Regions from separate parts of the Homo sapiens genome. Here regions 1 and 3 are each linked to region 2. The links come from fine-mapping of genetic effects on gene expression. A gene starts in region 2. Each other region holds a variant in brackets. All regions are shown on one strand. Distances are from middle to middle.

Region 1 (2,764 bases), 67 kb before region 2:
CCAGGCATGGTGGCTCACGCCTGTAATTCCAGCATTTTGGGAGGCCAAGGCTGGCAGATCACTTGAGGTCAGGAGTTCGAGACCAGCCTGGTCAACATGGTGAAACCCCGCCTCTACTAAAAATACAAAAATGAGCCAGGCGTGGTGGCACACACCTGTAATCCCAGCTACACGGGAGGCTGAGGCAGGAGAATCGCTTGAACCTGGGAGGCAGAGGTTACAGTGAGCCAAGATCACGGCCCTGCACTCCAGCCTGGGCAACAGGCCGAGACTACGTCTCAAGAAAAAAAAAAGAGAGAGAACCACCAAACTGTTTTCCAAAATATACTAGTTTACTTTCTCAGGTAATGTGGGAATTTTATATTCCCACAAGTAGTTGCTCCATACCCATTTCAACTTTTGGTATTATAAGTCATTTACATTTTAGCCTTTCAAATGAGTATGTAGTAGTATGTCATGGTTTTAATTTGCATTTCTCTAATGATTAGTGATGTTGAACACCTTTTGATGTGCTTTTTGGCCATTTTGGTTCTTGATTTTTGTGTCCTCAGAAACCTTTGCCTCTTCTTTACTTTTTTTAAAGCAACCTTATTGAAACATTATTTAGAAACCATGCAGTGTGTCCATTTAAAGTGAGTAATTTAATGGTCTTTAATATATTTACAGATTTGTACAACCATCACCATAATCTCCTTTATTTTTTAATTTTCACTCATCGCCATAGCTTGAGCCCAATCCCAGCCTCTGTAGTGAGCACTGTTTCTCTTATCAGTCATTTATGGCTGTGTGGCTACAGTTCCAGGAATTACCAGTGTGTAATTCCTGTGACCGTCTCACCTGTTCTCATTCAACATTTCTTCAGGACCCAATTAGGTTAGTTTGATCACTATCTTAAGATCAGTAATCCTTTGTCTAAGTTTCAATGTTACTGGCCCCTTCCTTTGTGCTCCCAATACTACTGCTGTCATACTTCTAATATGGTAATTACCATATTTTATTGCAATTTATAGTTTATATCTCTGTCTTGACTAGACTAAACTTAAGGAAAGGAACTCTTTTTTTTTTTTTCTTCTGAGACGGAGTCTCGCTCTGTCGCCCAGGCTGGAGTGCAGTGGCGCGATCTCGGCTCACTGCAAGCTCCGCCTCCCAGGTTCACGCCATTCTCCTGCCTCAGCCTCCCGAGTAGCTGGGATTACAGACGCTCGCCACCACGCCCGGCTAATTTTTTGTATTTTTAGTAGAGATGGGGTTTCACCGTGTTAGCCAGGATGGTCTCCATCTCCTGACCTCGTGATCTG[C/G]CCGCCTCGGCCTCCCAAAGTGCTGGGATTACAGGCGTGAGCCACCGTGCCCAGCAGAACTGTTTCTTATTCATCTTTGAATCCCTGCTGCCAAGCATGGTACCTGACAATACAGTTGGCATTGATGAAGTGTAGGTTGAATGATTCAAATGACTCAAACAAACATATCTTCCACCTAAACAAGAAGCTTTATCCTTTGGAGTACATGGAGAATTCTGTGAATTCATTTTCACTTACATAATCAGTCTACTTTGTATTTTGTCTCTTAATTTCTAATGTTAAATCTCTTGAAACTGTTGTAAAACTTTGTGATCATGAATTAAGTCCCACAACTTAAAAAAATTAACAAATTAGTAATGATGAACTGTACAACTTCAAATTTGAAGTGGTCATGCAAATTTCACAACACATTCAATGAGAGGCATATATACAATGATACTTACATTAGCTGAAAACAATTTTGAATTGGAGACAAAGGGCTCTCTAAAAACTTTTATAATTAGATTTAGTTCCCTTATATATTGTCGAATTTCTGCCATAAATGCTTTTACCAAATCATAGTAAGTTTGTTCTCCTGAGGTGGAAGGCTCTTCGTCAGTTAAAGATAATATATTAATATCTTCTACATCTTGATGAAACATATCCATCAATACCTATACAGTCAGAGATATAAAAAAGTATAATAAAATATGAAGCTTTCGTAGAATTTGATGTGAAATGCTCTAAGTTCTCTGAATAAAGTTCTTAAATGATAAAAAAGCAGACAAACAAATTTCTCTTCTTGGATATATTGCCAGCATCCCTCCACAGCTTCTCTAAAACAGAATTCAACATGTGATATAACTTACTACACTCCTCCAAGTTCTCTATCACTACTAGTATTTATCTGTCTGTCTCTCTTGTTAACCTATTACTTCCAATTTGTTTCCAGATCCTGTCTTTAATTTCCCTGACTTGGTTTTCTCTGTTTTATACCCTGCCATCATCACTTTATTCCATGGCCTCAGTATCTCATATTTAAATGTTTATAGCTGTCTATTCGGCCGATTTTCCTACATTTGTTGGGAATAGGTCAAAATAAGCTATTATTTTCTGCAAGAAGTCTACTGTTACTACTCTTGCTACAACACATCTTTCCCCTTCTTGAGAACTTCTACAGCATCATATCTCTATAACACAATAAAATATTATTTTATCTTGTGTGCTTTCTGATTGTTTCATGAATATAAGTATACCTTCATCAACTCTGGAGCCTTGTTTTATATATACTTATCTTGCATCTCCTCTCTGTGTAAACATGTAGTAGGTACTCAAAAATATTTTATTTATCTGATTCATTAAAAAGCATCAAGTATTTCGTATTCGTGTCTTCAGTTAAAAATACCCAAACATTTGAAATTCTTCTTCAAATCAGGTGGGTTTTTTCACTCTATATGGCCACATTCTCAAAGAACAAATAAATACTA
Region 2 (2,764 bases):
CAATTCCTTTGAGCAAGCCTTACGGCCAGGGCATTCTCAAGCCACTAAAACCAGCGTACTGGACACCTAAAACGGTAGGCTGACAGCAGCTCCGGGCTAAGACCAAGAAGACGGAAAAGTGGCCTGCTTTGACCTCCGCTGAAAACTGAGGCTCCTCCAACTGTTGTTGTCCTGGAATCAAAGGGCAAAGCATTCACCTCTCAGGGGTTGGATTATCCGGATAAACTCCCCCCGGCTCCCTGCGGCATTCCCACACACCCGGTGGATGTCAACACCGAGAGCCAGCCGTATGAGGGGGGCCTCTCCGTGTGCGCCGTCCTTTTGGAGACGCGGCGAGACCGGGAAGAAAGACGGCCCTGCGCGCGCCCCGCCTCCCCAGCCCTTCCCCAGCGCCCGCGCTGGGGGGCTGCGGCCGGGAAGCGGGGTCCCGCGTGCTCCTCACCTTTTTCAGCGCAGGCACCAGTAGTCCCCGCCACTTGGGCGCGTTCTCTTCGCTGAAAAACTCGTAGGGCAGCTGCTGCGCCTGCATGGTGCCCCCGGGGCGCCTCTGGGCGGGGAGAGGGGCGGCGGCGGCCGGGCCAGGGAGCCGCGAGAGGGCGAGCTCGCAGCGCGGAACAGGGCCGCGGCCCCACCGGACGGCCCGGCCCCCTCCGGGCGCCGCGCAGCCGGGCTAGCCCTGGCGAGGGGGCTGGGGGGCGAGGCCCGCGCCTGGCCACCCACCCGACACAGGTACCAGCCGTGGAGAACGGACGCGGCCCGGAGGCGGCGGCATCCCGCACCACCGCCCCGGGGCCAGGCCCCCCGCCCCTCCCCGGCCCGCCGGCGCCGCCCCGGGCTGCCCTCTGCCGCGGCCGCCGCCCGCCCGCCGGGGCTGCACTCCCGGGCCCGGTCTGGCCCCGCGGCGGAGCTGGCGGCTGGGGGAGGACGTGTGGAGGGACGCTCCGGCCGCGGCGCCCGCTCCGCGTAGTTGGGACTCCGAAACGCAAGAGCCCCGGGCGGGGCGGAGCTGGGGCGGAGGTCTCGCGGGGAAGGGGAAGGACCGGAGGTCGTTGTTGGGGAATCTGGCTGCCCTGAGGTGCCGCCGCGGCCGCCGCCGCCACCGCCGCCGCCGGTGTAGCGCTGGAGCTTCCTACTAGCGAACTGAACCTGCTCGCTACTGAGCATGCGCTGCCGTGCTGGGCTGGTTCGCTCCGGGTTTTCCGGCTCCCGGTGAAGGAGGAGGAAAGCTCGAGAGAGAAAGAGAGAGAGAGACAGGGAGGGCGCCCGGCCGGGCTGTGGCTGCGCTCCTGGGGGCTGCAGGGGAGGGGCGAAGGGGCCCGAGAAGTCGCACCCTGGCAAAGTGGGGCCTGCAAGGGTGGGTGATGACTAGGGTAAAGAGGCTCCCCATTGTGTGGCCTGGCCGTGAGGGCTCCCACCCTTCTCGGAGTCCCTGGGCCCTTCGTTTCGGAAAGGGGTGTGTGTACTTTGTTCCTGAACACGAAGATAAGGACTGCCCAGAGCACGCAATGTATAGTAAACAGACTGGACAAAAGACAGGTGCTCTGTCACGAAACCTACTGCTCAGTATCTGCTGAGTAGTAGAAGTGATTGCGGTGTTTCTAAGTGGTCTTTCCACAAAATAATAAAATGTGTACGTGTAGTATTGATTTTGTGTGAATGTTTTAGATTCCCTCTGTTCATCTTTTAAACCCACTCCAGAAATGAACTCCAGTAAGCACTTTCCTCCAGTGGATATCGAGACCTCTTTTACAGCTCCTAGAGCACTGCACTTATGCCCCTCTCAGGGCGTTCAGTCTATTGTGTTTTGTTATCTTTTGCGGTTCTTTCGACTAGATAATAAACTGGAAGGCAGATCTTTTTCACCAGGGCCTCTACACAGTGTAGAACAGGCACTCAGTCAATGTTAGTGGAATGCTAAAGGAGCAGTATTTATAAACTGTCCCTCCAGGCCACTGTTTGTTTATAATAGGGGCACTTTGTGGCAGACACCTTATGATTTATCATTAATTATCATTTTTTTGAGTATCATCTCATTTAATCCCCATAGCAACCCTATTATTTTCATTTCACCGATAAGAAGGCAGTTTAGAGGAACTAGCCTGGGTTAAAGCTGACATTGTGTCCTGCTATTCCTGAGAACAGTAACCAGGATCACATAAACGAGAAAGGTTCAGTGGTTCTTAATCTTTACAGGACCTCTTTGAAAATCTGGAAAAACAACTCTTAGGTTATTTCCTTTAAAAATACACAGGCCGGCCAGGCGAGGTGGCTCATGCCTGTAATCCCAGCACTTTAGGAGGCCGAGGCGGATGGATCACCTGAGGTCAGGAGTTCCAGACTAGCCTGGCCAACACTGTGAAAACCTGTCTCCATAAGAAATACAAAAATTAGCCGAGCATGGTGGTGGGCGCCTGTAATCCCAGCTACTTGGGAGGCTGAGGCAGGAGAATCGCTTGAACCCAGGAGGCAGAGGTTGCAGTGAGCCGGGATCATGCCACTGCACTCCAGCCTGGGCAACAAAACCAAAACTCCGTTTCAATTCAAAAAAAAATATACACACACACACACACACACACACACATACACACAGACCGGCCGGGCGCAGTGGCTCACGCCTGTAATCCCAGCACTTTGGGAGGCCGAGGTGGGCGGACCATTTGAGTTCAGGAGTTTGAGACCAGGCTGGCGAGACCCATCTTTATTGTTTTATTGAAAAAATAAAAATATACATACTTGGTTTACATTTGAAAAACTCCCCACTTTC
Region 3 (2,764 bases), 96 kb after region 2:
ATCATATTTGGATATTTAAATCATATATTTAGATCACTTTTTAAAAATTGAACATGTGCAGATGTAGCTGACTTTACAGAACAGTGGGAAGGCCTAGGCATGACTCAGTTATGACACTAGCTACAAGAGTCTGAAGTATATGCAGAGAAACAGCAAGTGATGTACACGGTATTTTCCTCAGAGCAGTTTCCTGATCTTGTACCACAATTATGGTGGCATGTCCTTGACATCAGTGGCCCAGTGGCAACCCTTGACCCCAGTTCTCCTAATTATTAATATTGCAAATGTACCTAATTTTCATGATTAAATCCCTTTCGACTTGAAGTGTCTATTTCCAGCACTGAATACTGATATAACTGTATTCTTCTCCCCACTTCACCTAGAGCCAAACCTGAAACAACATTGCGTACACTTTCAAAATATGAGGCAGGAAGAATAGTATAGCCATGTTGAGCACTGTGAGACAGGTTGCTTGAGTTCAAATCCCAGATATGCTGCTTCCTACTTTATAATCTTGAACACGTTATTTAAGCTCTCTGCACCTTCAATTTTCCTCATGTGTAATACTAGAATAATATCTTATAAGTTATTTGAGTAATCTATCCCCTCAATGTCTGGTTTTAACACCCACATGAGTTCTGGAGATACAGGTCTGAGATTAGATAAGGCCAGTCGATGGGATTGAGACCCCTGTACAAAGAGGGAAGAGGTGCAGAATAGCAAGAGGCCCTGAGGAGAGAAAGAACTGGAGGTGTGGGGAAAGCAGTATGAGGCCAGGGTGGCTGAAACTTGAGTGAAGAAGCCAGGAAGGTTGGCAGAAATCAGTCCATGGAGGGCCTCGGAGATCTAGATCTCAATAAGAAATTTGGATTTTATGCTAAATTCAAAACCATTGAAAGAAATCAAGCAAGGAAGTGACATAATATGGAGAATGGATTTCTGGGAAGGCAACATACATACAGAGAGAGAAATTAGGAGGCTAATTCAATAACCCAAGTGAGATTTGGACACTTAGATTATGGTGGCAGCAGTGAGAGGAAGGGAAATGGATTTCAGTCCTTGAGAGGGACTAGCGAGGGTGGAGTACATGCTCCTGCTGACATGGGAACAGAACGCTAGTCTGGTTGGGATCTAAGAGCCTACAGGTGCAGGAGAGTAAGTACTGGAATTGGGAAACAAGGTAGGGGCTAGGATTGAGAAACTGCAAAACGCCAATTACTAGCCTTAATAACAGGGAATGGAGAATGAAGTAATTTCATAGGAAAGTAATTTCATAGGATGTTAAAGATGACTTTAACATGAAAGAGGATGTTTAAAGGCATCTCACAGGAAGTGTCATATTCAGTTCAGTTAGCTTCCAAGAAGGCAGATTCCGTCAGGGGCAAAACAACACCACTGATCGTGCAAAGAGAAGATAGCCATCAAAGAGAACCACAAACCAACACCACAGATCGTGCAAAGAGAAGATAACCATCAAAGAGAGTACACATCGACGCGGCGCCCAGT[C/G]CAGAAAGATAGAGCGCTGCAGCACCATTCAGCCACAGGCAGCATTTTTCAAAGCATCTTGGAGCAAAATGAACCTCTGGTGAAATCAAAAGATGCTCAGTGTTTAAATATTATATTTTGGGCCAGTGCAAAACCAAATATTCGGTTGGTACAAAAGTAACCGAGGTTCTTGCCACTGAAAGTAATACTAAAAGTCGTAATGAAGGCCTTAAAGCAAACATGAGACATCACAGTTCAAGTCTGAATGGGCTAACAAGATAGGGTAACATGATGGGGGAATTCAGACTGAACTGCTCAGAATATGCTCTTTGAACCACTCAGAGGAAGACCTGATGCTGAAATCAGAAGTCATTACCTGGAAGTTTGTTATAAAAACGTAATAGGGGAAGCTTGATTTCATTATTATTACCCAAGATGAATTCAGTCCTTCTCAGTAAATCTTTACTATCCTAGAATAAAATCCAGCCTTGTTACTATGGCCTACAAGGCTGTTAATAACATTTTACTTCCATTTCCCTTCCCAACTTTATCTCCTATCACATCCCTAAAGTCACTCCATCCCAGCCCATTATTTTCTGCTATTCTCTGAACATGCCAGGCTTATTTTATTATTTATTTATTTATTTATTTATTTATTTATTTATTTATTTATTTTTTGAGATAGAGTTTCGCTCTTGTTGCCCAGGCTGGAGTGCAATGGCATAATCTCCGCTCGCCGCAACCTCCGCCTCCTGGGTTCAAGCGATTCTCCTGCCTCAGCCTCCCAAGTAGCTGGGATTACAGGCATGTGCCATCACACTCAGCTAACTTTGTATTTTTAGTAAAGATGGGGTTTCTTCATGTTGGTCAGGCTGGTCTTGAACTCCTGACCTCAGGTGATCTGCCTGCCTCGGCCTCCCAAAGTGTTGGGATTACAGGCGTGAGCCACTGCGCCTGGCCCCCAAGGCTTATTTATACTTTCAATCAGGCTGTTAATAACATTTTACTTCTATTTCTATGTTTACTTCTATTTCTACTTCTATTAACAGTTTATTGTTCCTTCTACTTCCTTTTAGTTATGAGTAATTTTCTGTGTTAACTTGACTAGGTTAAGGGATGACCAGATAGCTGCTAAAACATTATTTCTGCCAGGTGCAGTGGCTCATGCCTGTAATCCCAGCACTTTGGGAGGCTGAGGCAGGAGGATTGCTTGAGCACAGGAGTTTGAGACCAGCCTGGGCCACATGGCAAGACCCTACCTCTACTCAAAGTTTAAAAA

Which allele goes with the higher level. Positions count from the first base shown, and alleles are read on the strand shown. Sizes are in standard deviations (SD) of each study's normalised expression. Not every link is listed here.
As copies of G replace C in region 1, the expression in monocytes after interferon gamma of the gene that starts at base 1,158 in region 2 goes down (large effect, 1.3 SD a copy in Fairfax 2014).

The links.
Region 1: its variant is fine-mapped to the expression of SOS1 in monocytes after interferon gamma (Fairfax 2014, PIP 0.95).
Region 3: its variant is fine-mapped to the expression of SOS1 in whole blood (TOPMed, PIP above 0.99).

Annotation. Positions count from the first base shown.
Region 1 is chr2:39,052,873-39,055,636 of GRCh38, forward strand. It overlaps SOS1 (SOS Ras/Rac guanine nucleotide exchange factor 1), which reads right to left. Exons shown (of 23, transcript NM_005633.4): 5 at 1,742-1,951. Among named protein-coding and RNA genes, the nearest start is that of SOS1, 67 kb to the right of the region's middle. The variant C/G (reference allele first, on the strand shown) is at 1,299.
Region 2 is chr2:39,119,894-39,122,657 of GRCh38, forward strand. SOS1 (SOS Ras/Rac guanine nucleotide exchange factor 1) reads right to left here and starts at 1,158. Exons shown (of 23, transcript NM_005633.4): 1 at 443-1,158. The coding sequence starts at 529. RefSeq lists an enhancer at 28-107 and a silencer at 308-1,027.
Region 3 is chr2:39,215,588-39,218,351 of GRCh38, forward strand. The region is part of intron 3 of CDKL4 (cyclin dependent kinase like 4); the gene reads right to left. Among named protein-coding and RNA genes, the nearest start is that of CDKL4, 27 kb to the right of the region's middle. The variant C/G (reference allele first, on the strand shown) is at 1,507.